Regions from separate parts of the Homo sapiens genome. Here region 1 is linked to region 2. The links come from fine-mapping of genetic effects on gene expression. Tissue or cell type: fibroblasts. Region 2 holds a variant in brackets; the other region holds the start of a gene. All regions are shown on one strand. Distances are from middle to middle.

Evidence for each region. PIP is the estimated chance that this variant, and not a neighbour inherited with it, causes the effect.
Region 1: it holds the start of TMEM97, and the variant in region 2 is the best candidate, but not a certain one, in a credible set for the expression of TMEM97 in fibroblasts (GTEx, PIP 0.53).

Annotation. Positions count from the first base shown.
Region 1 is chr17:28,313,647-28,324,528 of GRCh38, reverse strand. TMEM97 (transmembrane protein 97) reads right to left here and starts at 5,329. Exons shown (of 3, transcript NM_014573.3): 1 at 5,164-5,329. The coding sequence starts at 5,289. RefSeq lists enhancers at 5,206-5,265, 5,746-6,005, 6,225-7,050.
Region 2 is chr17:28,088,034-28,098,915 of GRCh38, reverse strand. All of the region lies in intron 1 of NLK (nemo like kinase), which reads right to left. Among named protein-coding and RNA genes, the nearest start is that of NLK, 51 kb to the right of the region's middle. The variant C/T (reference allele first, on the strand shown) is at 5,855.

The sequences.
Region 1 (10,882 bases), 230 kb before region 2:
CAAATAAGTCTTGATATTATGATTAATAAAGGCAACTCCAGGGTAAGAATTTATCTTACTTACAATGGAAAATCCAAGAATATTTTTCCTGTTAATTTTTAATCAAAAGATAAAGCCTCGCTATTGTGAAATAGAAGCCCCACTGCTGCAAGAGCACTTTAAGCAAACATCCAGAAACAAATATCCTGTTAGCATATTATTAATTTCAGAAAGGCTTTGGCTAGATAACCAATTTATTGACCAAAGGATATCCAAATTTGTACTTAATTTGAAATTGAAATTCATAGCAATGCCCTTCGCTTCCTTCTAAGCACTTTTCTGGATGGGAATGTGGTTTGAATAGGATTGAATTGATAAGAAACACAAAGGCTAAGTCACTGTCCCTCTCCAGGGTTCTACTTCCTCATCTGTAAAATGAGCAACTTGGACTAGATGTTTTCTTAAGATCCCTTTTTTGCTTTTTAGATTTTTAAAAATACTGGATGACACTACCTGCTTTAAAAGATTGACTATAAAATTATTATTATTTTTTTTGAGACAGTCTCTGTTGCCCAGGCTGGTGGAGTGTGGTGATTTGATCTCGGCCCACTGCAGCCTCAACATCCCGGGCTCAGATGATTCTGTCACCTCAGCTTCCCCAGTAGCTGGGACTACAGGTATGCGCCACCAAGCCCAGCTAATTTTCTGTAGAGACGGGGTTTTGCCACATTGCCCAGGCTGGTTTCGAACTCCTGGGCACAAGCGATCCTCGCTTCAGCCTCCCAAAGTGCTGGGATTACAGGTGTGAGCCACTGCACCCGGCCTGACTGCAAAATTTAAGAGGCATTCTGGGCCAGGCCCGGTGGCTCATGCCTATAATCCCAGCACTTTGGGAGGTCAAGGCGGGTGGATCACCTGAGGTCAGGAGTTTGAGACCAGCCTGGCCAACATGGTGAAACCTCGTCTCTACTAAAAATACAAAAATTAGCTGGGTGTGGTGGCTCACGCCTGTAATCCTAGCAACTCTGGAGGCTGAGGTTGCAGTGAGCCGAGATCGAGCCACTGCACTCCGGCCTGGGTGACAGAGCGAGACTCCATCTCAAAAAAAAATTAAAAAAAAAAAAAGGCATTCTGGCCATTTGAACTTCACTTTCTATTCAATTTGTTTACAACCTCTCTGATCCAACTATTTCATAAACTGAGGCAGACTTGTACAGCACTTTAATTTCTAAGGCCTACAAGATGAGATCAGCAAAATTTAAAAAACAATCACCCAGATGTCGTAATAATGAATTATCATAATCGTAACCAACCATCTGCCCACAGTCATATACCTGCCACCTGATGCCAGAATGAGGCTGGGACTAATTGTGAGTAGGAGAGTAGAAAGCCCAGGCACCTGGCAGATGGGTGAGGCGTGTAGGACCTGGGGTAGAGTGCCTGGCTTTAGGCAAGGCCTTTAATCTCCCTACACTTGTGTCCCCATCAATAAAATAGAGCCAGTAATAGTGCCTACTTCACTATTGGTAAGAGAGTGACTTAATACATGTAGTCTTTAAAATAATGGCTAGCACATAATGATTAATTGAATGTAATTAATACATATTTGGAGATATTCAAGTTTAATCCCATTAAAATCGCAGCTCACGACTGGTCATTAAAAATTATTAGTTATGGCCTCCCTACCAAAGGTAATGAAACTGTTTCCACTTATACCTGACTCTATTTGACTCAACCCACCCTTGTTATACATAAAAGATTCACCTGGCCTGCACGCACGATCTCTAAACCAGTGGTTGCTACTCACCAATCTTGTACTTCTATAATTTAGAATGGGAACACAGACTGATTTCAGAGCCAGATGCTCACTTGTTTTTCCTTATTTTTACCAGAAGCAATGTTACCCAGCTGCAAATGATACTACAAAATGCTTCCCATCCTCTCCTTACCATGTTCTTATCCAAACTAAATTCTTACTGTTTCATAATAAAATAAGAGTTTTTCCAGGCCAGGCGTGGTGGTTCACACCTGTAATCCCAGCACTTTGGGAGGCTGAGGCATGCAGATCGCTTGAGGTCAGGAGTTTGAGACCAGCCTGGCCAACATGGTGAAACACCATCTATAACAAAATATAAAAATTAGCCAGGCGTTGTGGCAAGCACCTGTAATCCCAGCTATTTGGGATGCTGAGGCAGGAGAATTGCTTGAACCCGAGAGGCAGAGGTTGCAGTGAGCCGAGATTGCACCACTGCACTACAGCCTGGGCGACAAGAGACTGTCTCAAAAACAAAATCAAAAAAAAAAAAGAAAGAAAAACAAAAAGTAAATAAAAAAATGAGTTTTTCCAAGCAGTGATTTGGTGCAATCCAAGAAAAAAAATTTATTGTGCATGTTTCAGCCCAACCACTAGGTGATCTCCTACAGGTTTTTTAACTCTAGGGAAACATTCCTTCTATTTCAGGAAGAAAATGACAGATGTTAAATTTTGGCATTTTTCAAAGAGAATATGAGAATAACTCAAGGCGTTTATTATTATTTGCCCCATAGAGAAGCAACAAAATCAGCATTTCCTACACCAAAGCAACAAGAATGGAGGCACAGACCTTCCATGCCAGGATGCCACCGAGCTAATGCCTTCAAACATCATCACACACACAGATACACACACACCCAGGATGCCCGTGCTAATGCCTAAATCTCACACAAACACACACACACACACACACACACACACACACACACACACACAGGTTCTGGCCAGATGCTGCCTGCACTGGCCCTTGGGCCTTCTGCAGTAAGTCAGCATTAAAAAAATAAAGCTGACGCTGGGCACGGTGGGTCACACCTGTAATCTCAGCACTTTGGGAGCCCGAGGCAGGAGGATGGCTTGAGCCCAGAAGACCAGCCTGGGTAACACAGTAAGACATCATCTCTACAAAAAATAAAAAATTAGCCAGGTGTGGTGGTGTGCACCTATAGTCCTAGCTACTCAGGAGACAGGTGGGAGGATCTCTTGTGCTCAGGTTCAAGGCTGTGGTAAGCCATGACTGCATCACAGCACGCCAAGCCTGGGTGACAAAGGACCCTGTTTCTAAAAAAAAGACTGAGAAAATTTTATCAAATGTAAACATTTAAATGGGATCTTTATGATATGATGCTGAGCACCTTTTAAGTGTATTTTGTTAGGGGTGAGCAAGACGGGCTTGTGAGAATGGCACATCCAGGAAGGATAAAGAAGACAACAGCTGTGAAGTCTGGAATGGCTACATGGAGTAGCAGGCTAATTACCAAGTATTAAAAGGTCCTATAACACCAGAGATTGTAAACAGGCAGCCTGTCTGAGTATTGCTGGCCACACAGGTTTCAAAAACCACAGATAGGCCAACACTGTAGTAGATTTTCCTTTCTTCAGGGCAATTAATGGTTACTGCAGAGCTGCGATGACCTCTTCGGTCTTTGGGAAGAGTCTGTACTCTCTGGCCCTGTAGTAGGCTGAATAATGGCCCCCAAAGATAACCACATCCTAATCCCTGGAACCTGTGACTATTACTTTATTTGGCAAAAGGGACTTTGCAGATGTAATTAAGGATTTTGAAATGGGAGATTTTCTGGGTTATCTGGTGGGCCCTGAATGTATGACAAGTGTCTTTATAAAAGCGAAGCAGAGGGAACTCTGACTACAGAAAGGGAGGCAATGTGATGACCCGAAGCAGAGATTGAAGTGACGTGAACACAAGCCAAGGAACATTGGCAGCCACCAGAAAATGGAAGAGGCAAGAACCAGATTCTCCCCTGGAGCCCTCAGAAGGAGTGAGCCCTGCCTTGATTTGAGCACTGTAAGATTTCATTGTGAACTTCTGGCCTCCAGAACTGTAAACAAATAAATCTGTTAAATCACTACATTTGTGGTAACTACAACAGCAATATGAAAACTAACCCACCCTGTATATGTTTGAGCTTATAATTTAACTCAACTCTCTCAACAGTTGAGGAGGATATAGAGCCCTGACCTGCCCAAGTCACCTCCAGTTCTTGGAAGAACCAAGTCCCCAGACTGCAACTTGCTACACGCTACCTACGCTTTTCCCATGCAAAAGGAGGTCAGAGGTCTTCCAGTTGTGTTTGGTTCTAGAAGCAAACAAAAAAGAGTGACTTATGGGAGTGGTAGAACATTCTTGAGCCGTGGCCTTTTTGGGAGAGTTAGGCCCCTTGAAAAGTCGATGGAAGCTATATTCTCCTTGCAGGAAACAAAAGGCACACACACTTGCACCCATTTTTGGGAGTTCATGACCCTCAGGTAAAGAACCCCTCCTCGGCAGATAAAAAGCATTTAAGGAAAAACAGACGCAAAATAAAATCTTCGGGTAGACAAGTCAGTCCTGCCTACAGTTATAGATAAGATGGAGAAACAAAACTGAGGACAGGAATTCCATGGAAGAAGGTCACAGGGTCCAGATACGAGAAAAAAACCTCAACGAACCGGGAAACTAAAACTATAGCTTTGAAGAAAAAAACAAAGCATTAAAGCAGAGTTTGGGGTTGAAAGAATGCTCTCCAACAACCAGGAAATCGGGATTTTCACCTTTATTTTTACTCAGGAGATCATTGTTACTCGAACCCAATATTGAAGAGCCAATCTGAAAAGATGGCAATTTACTCCTGAGCTCTGGAAGTTGCTGGAACCTGATCTCGAAGCAGTGACGATCTGTGAACGCCCCAGCTGCACCAACCAAGGTGCTAAACCTTCAGACAGGTCTATTTCTACTCGGATTTTTTCTTTGGGATCAGACTGGTATTTTAAAGCCCTTCCAAACAAACAAACAAAAAACCAGAAGCTTAAAGCAAACCTAACATGTGACTTTGGACACCACTTCATCCAGACTACTTCCCTCAGACACTGACAACCGGCCAGAGGTGGAATCGCGGGAAACCTTAAACCCAGGGAAGAAGTGACTTTAAAGGAAACAAAGCGTTCGCCCCCGCCGCTTGGGAGAAGGGGCTGGGATAGAGACAAAGCCCGAGGAAAACACCGAACTAAAGTTGGGTTAGGAGCGGGGGAGGCATGGGCAGGACCCGAGAGAGGCAACTGGAACCCAGAGTGCGCGAGCGCGGAGGAGGTGAAGGCCCTGTGGACGCAGCGCCGGGAGAGCCTCAGCGGGCCGGGATAAGAGGGGCGCCCCTCACCTCGACTGGGTAGAGCTCGCGCGGCAGCACCGCCTGCAGGTCCATGAACAGGGTGATGGGGATGTGGCTGAGGAAGTAGAGGCCCAGCAGCCACTCCACGCAGCGCCTGGTTGCCGGAGCCCCCATAGTCTGTCGGTTGGGCCTGGACCCGCTGATGTGAGAAGAGGGGCCAAATCCGCGCGCCTTCCCAGACCCACGCGCCTCGGTCGCCGCCTTGCCCCCGCGAGGGCTAGGCAGACCGCTTCCATTGGCTGGCGAGAAGAGGAGGCTCGTGGACAGGGGGCGGCACTCCCCACAGGGCGCACCCATTGGTCCGTATAAGTATAGCGCGTGGAGAAGGCGTCTCGTAAGCCATTTCCATTGGCCGCCAGGAGCGCCGTGTGGGCGGGGCTTAGTCACGCCGTTCGGCGCGCGGCTACTCAGTGTAGATTGCGGTTGTGAGCGCGAGCCTAGCGTTTCGGTGCTGGCCGCGTGGTATCCTGGTGTCCCGGCAGCTGCCGGCGGCGCTCCCTTCCCTCGTGGCTCCGTTCGCCACTACAACAGCAGTATGAAAACTGCACTGGCCCTTGGGCCTTCTGCAGTAAGTCAGCATTAAAAAAATAAAGCTGACGCTGTGCACGGTGGGTCATGCCTGTAATGTCTGCACTTTGGGAGCCCGAGGCAGGAGGATGGCTTGAGCCCAGAAGACCAGCCTGGGTAACTTAGTAAGACATTATCTCTACAAAAAATAAAAAATTAGCCAGGTGTGGTGGTGTGCACCTGTAGTCCTAGCTAGTTCGTGTACTAGTGACCAGCGCCTGTGCTGGGCCGCGGTACCCCGGTGCAGTGCGGCCGTCACGGAGCAGGGGTCGCAGAGCGGGGCACGAGCGCCGCGGTGCAGGTTCCCGGCCCAGCCGGGGTTGCGGGTCTGGGGAGGCAGCTGGCCGCGGTGAACAAAGAAGCAGAGGGGAGGACTCGAGGGACGTAGGAGGCAGTAAAATGGACAGGAATCCTCACCGGCTGTGGAGCATGAGGGAAGGTCAAGGATTCGTTTACACGTTCAGCAAATACTGATGTTCATCTCCACGCTGGGCGCAGGCCTGTCTCGGGGCAGGATCGCCGAGGCTGCCATTTGCTAAGAGGGGACACAGGGCAAGGGAGTGCGAGGAAGGAATGCAGCTTGGACTACGTGGACCTTGAGTGGGCTGCAGCGTTGGGTGGAGGAGGCAGTTGGGTGAGCCTGTCTGGAGTCGTAAGCTTGTGAGGCATCCGCCTTTGATGGCGAGCAGAGGGCCTGGGAGAGATCCTGGGGGAGCTCCAGCCTCAGGTCATGGGAGGAGGGGACTGAGATAGGAGCGTACTAGCAGGGGGCTATGTCACAGGGAGGGGCAGCCTGTCAACACTGAGTGATGCCCGCCTGTGGCCCTGTGGGGAACAGTTGTGTCGTGGGGGCAGGAGCCAGGGAGTAAGAAAGTGGGGAAATGGAGGCAGGAAGTGTAGACAGCTGGTCACGAAGGGGAGAAGACATGGGGCAGTAGCTGGAGAGAGATGCACTCGAGAGTTTATTTTGCAGGTGAGAAAGACTTGAGCTAGTTTAGTTTTGACAGTGGGAGAGGTTACCCCTACTCGAGAAGAGCAGGAAATGCGGCTCAAAGCCCTGGAGGAGGCGGAGGGAATGGAAGGATTGGGGTGGGTTAGGTGGGTGCACTGCGCTCCGCCCAGCTTCCCCTTCCCTTGGGGCGCTGTGGGCTAGGACAGAGGGATTATGGCAGTGTTGAAGGCCCAGCTGAGGTGGGGGGCCGCTGACCCGGAGGCCCCAATCTCTTAGGCTGTGTGCTTTGCATTTCTCTAGTGCGGGGTCTACCCAGAAGAAGGCTGTTGGACCCCTACAGAGTTTGGGTTCAGAAAAGCGAAAGGTGGCTTTGAAGAGCTGAAGAAGAGTGATTGAGGTGCAGAAGGTTGCAGTTCAAGCTAGGTAGGGGGAGAGGGAGAGGTGAGGCCAAAGGGGGCTGTAAGACAGGGAGACAGTGGAGGCCTGCTGAGGAACACGTGCCAGCGTGATGGGAGTCACTGGGCCGGAAGGGTGGGAGCTTATGAGGAGGGCGTGCAATACCTGAATTCCTGGGGTCAGGAAGAGGTTCTGCCCGTGGGAGTGTGCGGCTGAAATGGAGTGGAGGGGAAGGTCTTTGGAGATGAGGTCAAGGGAAGGCCACCCAGGGTGGTGGTGGCGAAAATGCCACTGCACACGGGGGAGTAACCAGAAGGAAGGTGAGCATGGGATGAGAGTGGAGGGGAAACTGTGTGGACATGGCCTTGCGGAGGGAGGAGGCCGCTTATCCTGACCTTGAAGGGTGCGAGAAGGTGAATAGCCTGCGCTGGAGAGGGCTGTGGGGAAGCTGAGTCCTCAGCCAAGTGCCAGTTACTGGGGGAGGTAACAGTGGAGGGGTTTGGCTGGAGAGGAGGAGGAGCAGGTTGGAAGGAGACAGTAGGAGAAATGTGGAGGTCTTTGGGTGGGGAGCAGGGGATGAACAGCATGGGTGGCTGAGCATCGTGAGGGCACACAGTTCTGGCGTCCCCCAAGTCTCAGGTCAGCCTTGCCCAGGACCACAGAGCCGGCAGCCACAGGGAGGCAGGGGTGTTCAGGGCTGTTTGTCCTGCTCCGAGGGGGGAGCCGGGCTCCATGGAGAGAACACTCTACCAGGGGCTCAGGAGGGAGGACTCAGAATTAGCTGCTGCTTTTTTTCCAGGAAAAAAAAAAAAAGTCAATGCCTGGGAAACCTTAGGTCACCTGAGGAGAGAGCCCATTTTGTTCACACCATAAATCTTTAAAGGCAGTTTGCTCTTTCTCAGACTCCACTCTGTTCCCAGACTAACTACTCCTGTTAGTCACTTAGTAGCCATCTTGGTTATCAAATTGACCATTGAGTTATCACGGTGCTTGTGTTCAAGTAAGCCTTATGTTATTTAATAGTGGGCCAGGTGTGGTGGCTCATACCTGTAATCACTTTGGGAGGCCGAGGCAGGAGGACCCCTTGAGGCCAGGAGTTTAAGACCAGCCTGGGCAACATAGCAAGACCCCATCTCTTAAAAAAAAATTAGCTGGGCATGGTGGCTTGCCTGTAGTCCCAGCTACTTAGGAGGCTGAGGTGGGAGGATCTCTTGAGCCCAGGAGTTTGAGGCAGCAGTGAGCTGTGATCACCTCACTGCACTCCAGCCTCCACAACAGTGAGACCCCTCTCAAAGGCCCTAAAGTGCAATGGTAGCGATGTGACAATTCGGATATGCCAATGAGAAACCATAAAGTTCCTTTATGTGAAAAGGTGAAGATTTTTGATTTAGGAAATAATGCTGAGGTTGCTAAGATCTAGAGAACAGTAAGATATTTTGAGAGAGAGCACATTCACATACTATTTATTACAGTATATTGTTATACTTGTTCTATTTTATTGTTAATGTCTTACTGTGCTTGATTTATAAATTAAACTTTATCATAGGTTTGTATGTATAGGAAAAAACAATATGGTTCAGTACTACCTATGGTTTCAGGCCTCCACTGGGGGTCTTGGAACATGTTCCCCCACGGATAAGGGGGACTTTTGTATACAGCTCCTCTCTCACTTCTCCAAACCATTCACTTGAATGAGAACATGAAGGCTGGGCGCAATGGTTCACACGTGTAATCCCAGCAGAGGCCAAGGCAGGTGGATTACCTGAGGTCAGGAGTTCCAGACCAGCCTCACCAACATGGTGAAACCCAAACTCTACTAAAAGTACAAAAGTTAGCCAGGCATGGTGGTGCACACCTACAGTCCCCGCTACTCAGGAGACTGAGGCAGGAGAATCACTTGAACCTAGGAGGCAGAGGTTGCAGAGTCATGATAGCACCATTGCACTCCAGCCTGGGCGACAGAACAAAACTCTGTCTCAGAAAAAAAAAAAAGGCTGGGCATGGTGACTCAGGACTGTAATCCCAGCACTTTAGGAGGCTGAGGTGGGTGGATCACCTGAGGTCAGGAGTTCAAGACTGGCCTGGCCAACATGGTGAAAATCCATCTCTACTAAAAATACAAAAATTAGCCAGGCATAGTGGCGTGCACCTGTAGTCCTAGCTACATGGGAAGCTGAGGCAGGAGAATCACTTGAACCTGGGAGGTGGAGGTTGCAATGAGCCAGGATCGCACCACTGCACTCTAGCCTGAGTGACAGAGTGAGACTCCGTCTCAAAAAAAAAAAAAAAAAAATGGAACATGAAGAGCTGGGAGGGCCTTTGTAGATATCTAGGGCCTAACACCTCATGAGGAAACTGAGACTCAGAGAGGTGTTTGTCCGAGGTCACAAAGTGAGTGACAAGGCAGGGACTGGAACCCTGGTATCCTAACGCCCAGCCCCAGGCCAAGTCTTCTATCCCTAGGGCAGAGCAGTGCCTTCCCGCACAGGGTCTTCAGACCAAACCCAGGGCCCAGGAGAGGTCTGGCTAGGTTGGCACACTACACAGCTGGAGAGGCCTGGCAGCACTGCTCCCACCCTCCATCCATTATGGCTTTAAGGATATGGTGGTACCATATCCTTTTAATTTACCTTGGGGTGGGTTAGGTGTGTGCTCTGCGCTCCACCCAGCTTCCCCTTCCCTTAGGAAGTTATAATTAAGTTCCCTGTAGAACTTAATTATAACTGCTTGCTGGAGGGCAATGGGGCCGGAGGAGTGTGGGCTAGGATTTGTCCAGGAAATGTGGTAAGTACAGGTGTCAATGTGACAGTTTCTCAGAAAACATCTCATCCAGCCCTGGCAACATAGTGAGACCCCCATTTCTATAACAAAAATTAGCCGATGTGGTGGTACGCACCTATAGTCCCAGCTACTCAAGAGGCTGAGGTGGGAGGATGGTTTGAACCCAGGAGTGATCACACTACTACACTCCTGCCTGGGTAACAGAGTGAGACCCTGCCTCAAAACAAAAAACCCCAAATGTCACCTAGCCAAATTTGTTACCTATAAAGATTTTCAAGGCCAAGCACTTTCAGTGGATGGTTCCTCTGTCCAAAAACATTCTGTCCAGCTGTTTGAAATTTCTTTAGTAGGGGACCATAGCTCTTAATTTGATGAGGTCAGATAAGTCTTAGAATGCAAATGGCTCTAAGAGAGGTCAACTGAGGAAGACAACAGTGTGGAAAGAATGACCCTGTCCTTATGAGAACAATGTTTAGTGCCTTTAAAAAAGTATTTATATTGTGACAAGACAAACACCATTAGCCTAACAGTGGACCCAATGATGGCAGAAAGCGAATTCTAGCATTGTAACCCCAGCTGAAAGGTACTTGGAGCAGGCCATGCCAAATTGGCCACTTGCCTCTTTGGCAGCAACTGTACAAAGCTCTTTCTTCACCTCTCAACTTTTGCTTCACTTTTCTGTCTACTTAAAATGCACCCACCCTTCTCACCCCACCCCTGCTTACCTCCCCCATCTCTATGTATTTTACTATTTGGCTGAAGGCCACCCTACCCCCGCCCCCAATTGCCTCTATTTGGTGGCACTGTTACATCCTCTGAACCTGTTTCCGAAAGTTTGTCCCTTTCCACTGAGCAACACTGATTGGAGCCCATGTCTCTGGACATATTTCCCACTAGATCGTAGATTCCTTGAAAAGTATAAAAACTGTTTATATTTTTCACTGTTTTAAAACTTACCCTTTTAAAAATTAGGAGCCACAACACCAAGTCAAAAAGAATAAGAAATAAACA
Region 2 (10,882 bases):
GAGGTCGGGAGTTCAAGACCAGCCTGACCAACATGCAGAAACCCCGTCTCTACTAAAAATAAAAAATTAGCCGAGCGTCGTGGCGCATGTCTGTAATCGCAGCTACTCAGGAGGCTAAGGCAGGAAAATCACTTGAACCCGGGAGGCGGAGGGTGTGGTGAGCCGAGATGGCGCCATTGCACTCCAGCCTGGGCAACAAGAGCAAAAATCCATCTCAAAAAAAAAAAAAAAAAAAAAAAAGAATGGTAATGAAAAACTTTTCATAGTTGTGAAAAATAACTGGGAAAAAACTTGTATGCCCAACAATAGGTGATTGGTTAAATAATGAAATATCCATCCAATTAAAATGATGTGGCCAATAATATACATGCACCCTTATTGATGAATAAAGACGTACTCAATGTCAGTTTTCTTCCCCTTTCCTGAATTTTATGCTGGTACCTTTGACAAAAATGTTTACTTTCTACTTGGAAGAGTTATAGTACAAATAAGTGAGTAATAACTATCATAACAGATTTCTATTATTAGAAGAAAAATAATTCATAATTTCTACTCTCTTTTACTCCACCTTGGGTATATGAGGCTACCCGTTCTGCCTAATTCTTATGACAATTTTTTAAACAATTACCTTTGGACTTCAATCATTGTTATCACAAAAGATCTAACATGAGCAACTATATCATTTCAAGAGAGCTGATTCACAAATTGAATCAGTTATTTTAATTGTTTACTTACAGTTTGCCCTGTGGTAGATAAAGAAGTAACAGAAGGTTCTAGTGTACACTTCGTAGGTTTATATTATCTGGGTCTCAGTTCCCTTATCTATAAAAAGAAAAGGGCACAGTGCTGGATCTGGTTATTTGTAGTTCTAAGGAAGATTAATCTATTAATAACCAGTCGACACCTTAAAAAATTACAGAAGTGGCAAATGCAAAGTGCCAAGAAACAAACTTTTGTCAACTAGGTTACCCTGTAAACATTCACTTAAAGAAAAAAATGAAAAGGAACAGGATCCTTATTAAAGCTTGGTGAATTTAAACCCACACTGTAACGTAAAATGGAAATTCAATTTGTCAAGGAGACTAACAAAGGCAGGAATCACAACTGAAAAGTGATATATCCTCAATGGTTTCCTAGTTGCTAAAACTTAGAGTCAATCATCTTAATTGAAGACACTGAAAATGTACAAGTATCTGTCATTATAATCATATCAACAGTAGGTAAGATGCCTTATACTACTATAACAACTATAGGTAATTTCAAACAGAAAAAAAGCAATATACTTTAAATTATTTAGGGTAAATAATTTATTGTGCCTGCTTTAAAATAACGTTTCCCAATCCAACTAGGTTCAGATATTCAAACTGAGTAAGGATAATTTATTTATAAAACTGAAATACAACTTGGGTTCACAAGGACCATGCCTAACCAATTTTTCCTGCAACTCAGCATTATGTAATTCAAAGAAGAGAATAAATATATGTAAGTTTGACTGCAGAAAAAGGAAATTTGAATTTTACTTGTATAATGCCAAGTCAAAGAAACCAAGTTAAATACAGATATCCACACAAGAAATGAAACTCATTTATTAAACCTTCTTAATAAAAGTAACAATTACAGTTAGAAGCATGGCCAATTCTTAATAACATTAGTATAATTTAAAAATTTCTATAATCAAAAAGTAAGTATTTTGTTATTTGAACATTTTTTAATGTTGCCTTCAGAGGTTATACAATAAAAATAACTTATAATATGCATCTTGTACCTTGGTGTCTCATTTTTAAGTTATATCCCAAACAAAACTGAAATATAAGCAAATGGCTCAAGCAAAGTTTCATTAGATGGAAAAAGAATAAAACTTACTCTCATTAAGTCTGGCTAGAGGTGGTGGTGATGGGATGTTGTACTGTAACATAAATGACACAGCTGGATAACACAAAGCATGAAAACAAGGGAAAGGCTCCATCCTATCACTGTTTAGACCCTTCAGTGTCCCACTTATGCATGCTACAAGGCAACTACTGGAAGAAGAATACACCTCTTATTTTCGAGCAGAAAGGAAGCAATTCTCTATCTGCCAGTAGTAAGGGATTTCTTCTTAAACTGTTTCTCTGACACCAGTGATTTGTAACAGTAGATTTTTATTAGGGACTTATTTATTGAAGAAAATTAAGATGTTGAAAAATTCTTTTTCCTGTTCTCTCTGCTGTTTGGAAATAGATGGGGGAGTGGGAAACTAGAGAAGTGTCTTCAATATGCACAAGGGCTTTGATTAATTTACAGCAATGACCCATTGAAAGTTTCCCTTTTGATGCCCAGGTGTCAGGATTCCAATATTAAAGTTCCCATAATCTTCTCCAACCAAATGCAAATTGTTGACAGACATTTTCTCCTCCTTCAATATTCCTTCAATTATAGCCCCTTAGGACTAGATATCTGAGACTATATTGTAGGAGGATAAAAAAAATTACAAGAACACTTCATTTTTGAAAACTCAAGTCTATACCACTGAGTCACAATAACGACAATTCTGCAAGCTTTTGGTTAGCTTACATTTTCTTGGCTTAACTATGGTAAACTAGGCTAAAAGTAAACCACATTGTACTTTTTCTTGTGTAAAATTATAATTTTACATAGTAGAATCAAGGACTTATGAATTTTGTCATCCTCTTCAAAAATCCCTATTTTTAGTGAGTCAGTAGAAAGTCCAGGATGCCACTGAAATAGATTCTTCTGAAATCAGTTAAATAATTACTATTATTTTTCAACGTTTTCAAAATAAGTATATCCTTGACCTATAAAAGAATGCCTGTGCTGACAATTTCTTGAATGTCACCATTTAATAAGCAAGACGTCATCATGAATGTACAATTACACTTCATTTGTGATGGTGGGTCCTTGCAACAGGAAGTAAGATTGGAGAAATGCATGGGAACTTTTGGAATAAATTCTCCATTCTGGTTTTATGATTTTAATATAAGTGCAACAGTTAGAACACACAACAAGAGAAAAGGACAGGAACACACTTGGGAAAAAGATGACTTTTCTATTTGAGCCAGCTATTTTAGAAAAATCCTAGAATACTTACAGTGAGTGTCAGAATGCCATCTGGTTGTACTGTTAATGTAAATTTTAAATGTAACTTTAAGGATTGATGCAGATTTTCTTTTGTAAAACCAGAAACATTAAAAGTTACACCATAGCAAGGGTCACAGCAAGGGGCAAGTGGGTTGCTTAATGGAATAATCATTTCAAATATATATATTGTAATTGCAGAAATCTGGAATCATAGGATAATCTGCATCAGTAATAATATTGGCACCTTGCTTTATAATAAAGTCCTTGAAGATTAAAGTGTACAATCATACTACAATCCTGAGTAGTAGAATCCTTGCCTCTAGAAGTGAGACTTGGATAGAGAGATGCATCTTTTCCCACAAGCTCTGAATTTCTTCCACAACTATGTTGAGTTACAGTCTGAAATTTTTTTTAGAAAGTAATACAATTCCATCACATGTAGAAGCTGTTAATCTGAATTAGGAATGGAACGAATCTGATAACATGGCCATGTAGACTTTTCAGCAAACTCTTCCCTAGGGTCCAGGCCGCTGTCCAAGTTGACTACCCTCCCAGCTTGAGGGGGTACTGCACTACAGAGGGGAAATATGGGGATAAAGCAGGAGGACTAGCACAGAAAGGCAGCAACAATAGTATCATGTAACATTTGCTAGCACCATGTATAACTCATGGTCTCTTTCCCCATGAGGACAATCCTTTTCTAGCACTCACAGTAATGACTTCCACTTGAGGTGGCAATTATTTGTATCTTCCCAATTTTTCCTTCTAATTTTATTCTGGTAAGGAGACTACATTCTCCACCACCAAAAAAGACTTAGATATCATGAAAACTGGAGCTAGGTCAGGTCCCTTTCCTCTTTGGTTAAAGAAGAGCTGCAAATATGTGGACTGAGAACTACCTCTGCCCTGTGGAGAAAACAATTTAAAAAATAAACACAAATTTGCAGAGAAAGTCAGAGAAAGGAGACAAGAGTCTTGACAATATTCAAGTCTTGCACTATCAAAGGCTAGTTCTACTCTATCCATCTTGAAGCCTGGTTATGTGAGGCAACATACCCACTTTTTAGCTAATATAAGTTGAACTTTTGTAATCCAAGAATTCCAACTCTTATACCTCCCTTTACCAGATGCTTATTTTCACCTGTATAAAAATATTAGCTTTTGTCTCTCCTCCCCACCACCCACCCACCTCAAAGACTATAAATAATGTAATTTGCCTCAACAGCAAACCCCTAGGGATGGCAATGTTTGAAATAATCCTTTTCAGATACTTAATCTTTTGATGACTGACTTTACATTACGTATTACCATAAATGCAAATCAGTAGCTCCTTTGTCAAGAACTCCCCTCCCAATACTACCTTCCTCTCTGGTACATAAGCTTTGAACTCGGTCAGCAAAAGGCAAGTGGCCATAGCTGGGTTAATAATGCACTACTAGTAAATATATCCATGGCAGTAATTTCAAAGGTGTAAAAGAGAAAGGCAGCCTTATTGAAATGTGTTCTTGCTTGTAGGTTCTTAAGACAAAAGCAATCTGACATCATCTCTCAAACTACGTGGGTAATTTGGTTTTGTTTTGGGGGTTGTTTTTGCTCAGAAACCTGAAGAATCTAACCATTCCCTATACAGTAAATTCTAGGACGTTCTGAAGAATTACAGCTTTTCTAGAGAGCTTAATATAATCTCTCATGAATAAAAACAAGTCATCTTATTTGTCCACAAGTTATTAAGTATCATCTGATGAGAATATAATGGCTTTTGTCAGCATCTGTGAATTAATCATATTCTAGTAAAAATGTTACAGCTTCTTTCTGCTACCCTATTAAATAATAGTCATTTTTTTGCAATCTTTTGTCATACTCTTTCTAGAGATGTTGGATTGAAATTCTAATGTTATAATGCAGATCATATCCTAAGGCAGTCTGACAACAGAATAAGTCCTGACACAATGTTCATTAATTATTAACAATAGCAGAAACCATTAGTCCAGTAAAACACAAATAAATGAGGTGAACAAATGAAATATATGGTGAGTCTTTGGTGTGCAATTTTCATGGGAAGAATTGTTATCTTCATTTTTCAAACAGGGAAACTAATGCACAGAGAAGTTAACGAACTTGCCACGTGTTACGTACAACTCCCAAGTAGTTTGAGAGTTGATGTCAGATTGCTTCCGTCCTAAGAATAAGGGGCAGAACTGGGATTGGATTAAAGTCTTTTGGACTCTACAGTGTATGTTCTTTTCACTATACCAGACTGCTCTCCCTCAACTCAAGTTCTGTGAAGCAGCAATTACAAAGCTTTCCCACCATACCTTCCAAGGAACCCTTTGATGACCATCACATTTCACAGAATTTTTTTTATTATAAATTACTCCTCTTGGAATGCCTATGGAGTAAGGGGAATATGTAGTTAAGATACCGAGGGAGAGTTAATGGAGATCGCCCACAAAAGGTCTACTTTTGGAAATGCTATTATATATAGATCAGCCTACTTTAGGAGCATTCAATTTTGGTTTCATTAAGTATGTATATACTTCAGAGCTAGAATTATATTTAAGAAATCTATTGTATATTTTTCCAGCATCTGGTCATGAGAATATTTCAAAGAAAGGAAAGCCCTTTGTTTTGTTAATGCATATCCCCTCCTCCCTGCAACTCCCCTCCCAACTAATGAAGTTACTCTTAGTCTCAGAAAACTGGTTTAGGAAAACTTTAAAAATATAACAAAAAAACAAGCCACTAGGCCGGGTGCGGTGGTTCACGCCTGTAATCC[C/T]AGCACTTTGGGGGGCCAAGGTGGGTGGATCAGGAGGTCAGGAGATCGAGACCATCCTGGTTAATGTGGTGAAACCCCGTCTCTACTAAAATACAAAAATTAGCTGGGCTTGGTGGCACATGCCTGTAGTCCCAGCTACTCGGGAGGCTGAGACTGGAGCATTGTTTGAACCCGGGAGGCGGATGTTGCAGTGAGCCAAGATTGCGCCACTGCACTCCAGCCTGGGCAAGTGAGACTCTGTCTCAATAAATAAATAAAATAAAATAAAATAAAATAAAATAAAATAAAATAAAATAAAATAAAATAAAATAAAAACAAGCCACTTAGTTGCTTAGCTCTTTCTACTTCGAGGCAGGATACAGTCTGTTTTGTTTGACTATTATCTCCCCGAACTTGTTACGCTATAGGTGACTGTTGAAGGGGAGGGCTTTACTAACTTAACTCTGGTTAGAAAACAAACAGTTACACAGTTGACTGAGCCTGAGGGTGGAACAGCTTTAAGACAGGAAAGATAAATCCTAAAAGACCATTCTAAAATATTTATATAGTTAATGGGAACAAAAAAATTCCCTCACAAACTATGGCTTCCTCCAAAGAGAAAAATAAGTATCACCAAAATGGAAGAGCTCCCACCTATTAAGTAAATGTTCTAAATTTGTTTCCATTTGCTGTAAAGAAATGTGTACATCCACAAGTTTTCTGAAACTGCTGTTACATTTCAATGTAAATTCTTTTTGGAAGACAAATGAAAATGCTGAGTAGGCTTTCCTTACCTTTCCTTCTCCCCCCACCCCCCCGCCTTTTCTTTGGTTTCTTTAAAAAAAGCTCTGAGCAACACACCAGTCTTAATGCATTAAGATTAGAAGCATGTGTCCAAAGAAAAGTTGGTCCTGACAGAAGGCTATTTTACTTCTTACCATTAGAAATGGGAAGAAAAGCTGCTGTGCAAGTGCTACATGTCACCAATCCAAAGAGGTTATGCCCTTTGGCAGCACATTTAAGAAAAACCTGTATATTGTTAGCTCTAATGATTTCCAGGTCTTTCTTGTTCAACTAGGGGTGCCTACCTGGCAACATATTAAAAGATGTTAAAATAAAATTCAGGAGACAGAAGACAGGCTGGTTGTCAAAAGAAAAAAAAATCAGATGCCAGTATGACAAAGACTTTTTATTTTGGAAGATGGGTAATAAGTGCATTAATAAAAAGGAAGAGTAAGAAGGGAACATTACCCAGTATTATCTGTTTCAGTTGGATTGGTTGCACACCTGCAATGTTTCTTCTGGGATACTGCAAAATGGAATTAACAAAGGTCTCTTAACAGGAAAGGAAATGACCCACAGATCAGACTGTCTCACTGGAGTGTCGTTTTAGAGATTACTATGGAAATTCTGGTCATGACATTCTAAAGAAACAGGTCTTACATCTCTGGGAATAACTTTTATTTGGTAGATTACTGAAATGTTAACTATGTGGAAGGGGGTTATTTTATATCTAATAAAGTGAAGCAACAGAAGCTATAAGAACTGTATTGACCTTTTTCATATCAATGATTTTATATATGTGTGTGTGTATATATATATATATAAATATAATTATATATTTTAGACATGTGTGTAAATGTAGAAATTAAACGCTGTGTACTCATTGCCCAGATAAAAGTGTTTACCACATCTGCTTCAGATACATTTTATTAAGACATAATGCTACTACAGATGCATCCAAAGACTGCATCTTTAACTGAATCTGTCCCAGTTTACCATTATTCTGGCTCTGGTATGAATCCTTGATACTCACACTTTAACTTTTGATACATATGACTGTAGCCATAAAAATATGGTTGTTTTATGTTTTTAAAATTTACATAAATGGCTCACACTGGCCTAAGCTTTTATATATAACTTGCTTTCTCCCAAATCAGCCTTGTTTTTACAATTTATCCATGTTGATGTGCTTCAAGTCAGTGACGAGTAAATAAATAAAATGAAATAAAATTGATCCATGTTAATATATCTAGATCTAGTACATTTATTTCATATATATAGTATTCCACTATATGAATATAAGCCCACAGATCCAAGAAACTCACTGAATCCCAAGAAGAAACATGAAGAAAATTACATTTAGACATCACAATCAAATTGCTCAAAACCACTGATAAAGAGAAAAATCTTTAAAGCTGCCAGAGGAAAAAAAGACATATTACACACAGAGGAACAAAGATAAGGATTATAGCATATTTCTCATTGAAAACAATACAACCCAGAAAATAACAGAGTAACATCTTTGAAGTACTTAAAGGAAGTCACCCTAAAATTGCATACCCAGCAAAAATAACTTTCATTATTATTATTATTTTTTAACAAGCTCCCGCTATGTTTTTAACAAGCTCCCACCAGGAGATCTCAAATTCCTGGCCTCAAGCGATCCTCCCACCTCTCGGCCTCCCAAAGTGTTGGGATTACAGGTGTGAGCTACCACGTGGCTAAAAAAACCTTTCAAAAATGGAGATGCTATAAAGACTTTTTCAGACATTAAAAAAAAATTAAAATAATTTATCACCAGCAGACTTGCACTATAAGTAGTCATAAAGGAAGTAAAATGACTAACAGATGAAAAACTGGGTATCTACAAAGAAATGAAGAGCATGGAAAATAATAACAAGCACAGGAAACAACAACCACACAGGTAAATATAAAGACTTTTGGTATTATTTAAATCTCCTTAAAAGACAACTGTTTAAAGCAAAATAACAATGTAGTGTGGGGCTTAAAACATATGTAAGAGTGAAATGTATGACAGCAGTAGCCCAAAGGCTGGAAGGTGAGAAATGGATATAGACTACTATGCTATGCATAAAATAGTATAATACCAATTGAAGGTATACTGTGATAGGTTAAAGATGTATACCATATACTTAAAGCCAATCATTAAAATAATATAGCAAACAGTTACAACTAAAAAGCCAACAAGAAAGATAAACATGCATGATTCATTTAAAATTCTGATAAACTGGAAGTCATTAAAATTAGAAACTTCTGCTCTTCAAAAGACACTGTTACAAAGACAAAAACACAAGCCACAAACTGGGAGTACTTATTTGCAAATGATGTTGCTGATAAAGGATTTGTATTCAGCATTAGAAAACCCTCAAAGCTCAATAAAAAAAATACACACACAATTTTTTTTAAAAGTAGAGAGAAGATTTGAACAGATAATTCAGCAAAGAAGACATAAGGATGGCAGATCACTAGTCATTAGCAAAATGCAAATTATAACCACAAGTAACACTACACACACATTAAAATATCTAAAATTTAAAAAACTAACCATACTAAGTAACAGCAGTGATACGGAGGTACTGGAACTCACACACTATTGGTGGAAATGTGAGGTGGTAAAACCATTTGGGAAAACAATTTAACTTAAAAAAATTATGCATACACCTAGCTTATTATCCAGCCATTTCATTCCAGGTGAAATGAAGGCATATGTCCATGCAAAGACTTATATATGAATGTCCAAGGAGTTTTGTTTCTAATAGCCCTAAACTAGAAATAACTCAAATGTTCATCAGTAAGTGAATGAAAAAAAAAAACAACAAAACTATAGTATATCTCTACAATAGATTACTACTAAGCAATAAAAAAGGAATGAACTATTAATTCATGCAACAACATGGATAGATCTCAAAATAAATAAGCTGCGTGAAAGAAGCCAGATGAAAAAGAGTTCATTTTATATGATTCTATTTACATAAAAATCTAGGAAATGAAAACTAATCTATAGTGACAAAAAGCCTACAGATGGCAGTGGGAAGAGAAAGGTGGGGAAAGAAAATATTACAAAGGGGTAGAGGAATTTGTGGTGATGAATATGTTCAGAATCTTGACTGAGGCAATAGTTTCATGTGTATACGTACATCAAACTTACCAAACCATATGATTTTAACAAAGTTCTTTACATCATCTAAACCTGTTTTCATTAATCATATTGTTGGTGCTGGTATTCTGAGTACTGTGTATGCACTGTGAGGTGAACAAATGAATACTTATGTGAAGTTCTAATTCTATCATTTCTGGCACCACTGAAAACCAAGGGAACCAATACTTTGTATGGGAAAAAGGAGATTCAAGACCAGAATTTTAATCATTTGAATTTGAAGTATCAGTATGAACTCCTGGTATCATTTTATCTTAAAGATATGCCCACTAAAAAAAGCCTAGAAACAATGACAAACCCAAGCGATGAGTACCTCTAGTGCCAAGGGAACCTTGGAGAAATGGCTGATTCCAGATCTGGGTTAGAAAATGTACAGATGAGCCTGGAACATGTTGTCAAATCTAGACAACTAGGGTTATGTCAAAAGGACTCAGGAGCCCAGTGACCAAAATAACAACTTGCATACCAATAAAGACAATGATTTCAGTGAAATAAAAATATCAAATATTTTTCTATTTGAAACTAAGAAATATTTTTCTATATGAAATATAACTTAAATCCATAAGTTAATTAACTGGTTACTGTTAGAGGATGCTAATGGATCAATTCATTATTTTGAAAATGAATAAAGCAAACAAATTATGCATTTATCCCATCATTTATAGAAACCGTACCTACCAACAAGTAATCAAATAGAAAATGAAGTTTCACTTTATAGAACTATTTCAGCTAACAAATACAGAAGACCTGGTAGAATTAGATTATTACCATTTTGCAAACCTTAACAAATTAATGGATCTAGGTATTAATCATCAATGTCTATAATATGAAAAAGCAGAGATGATCCAATATTATGTGCCTCCTGATTAAGTACAGATCACTTGTACTATCTAATGAAGTAGTCATAGCCACCCATCAAAAAACAAACAAGCAAATAAACAGAAACATGAATGTGATCAAGTCTCCAGATTAAACTACCAATGAACAGAAAAGAGAGCAGAATAACATGCTATATACTACATGGATGCAACCAGTAACATACAGATTGTGATAAACTCTAAGACAAAGCCACCTGAATTCCTCAAAAT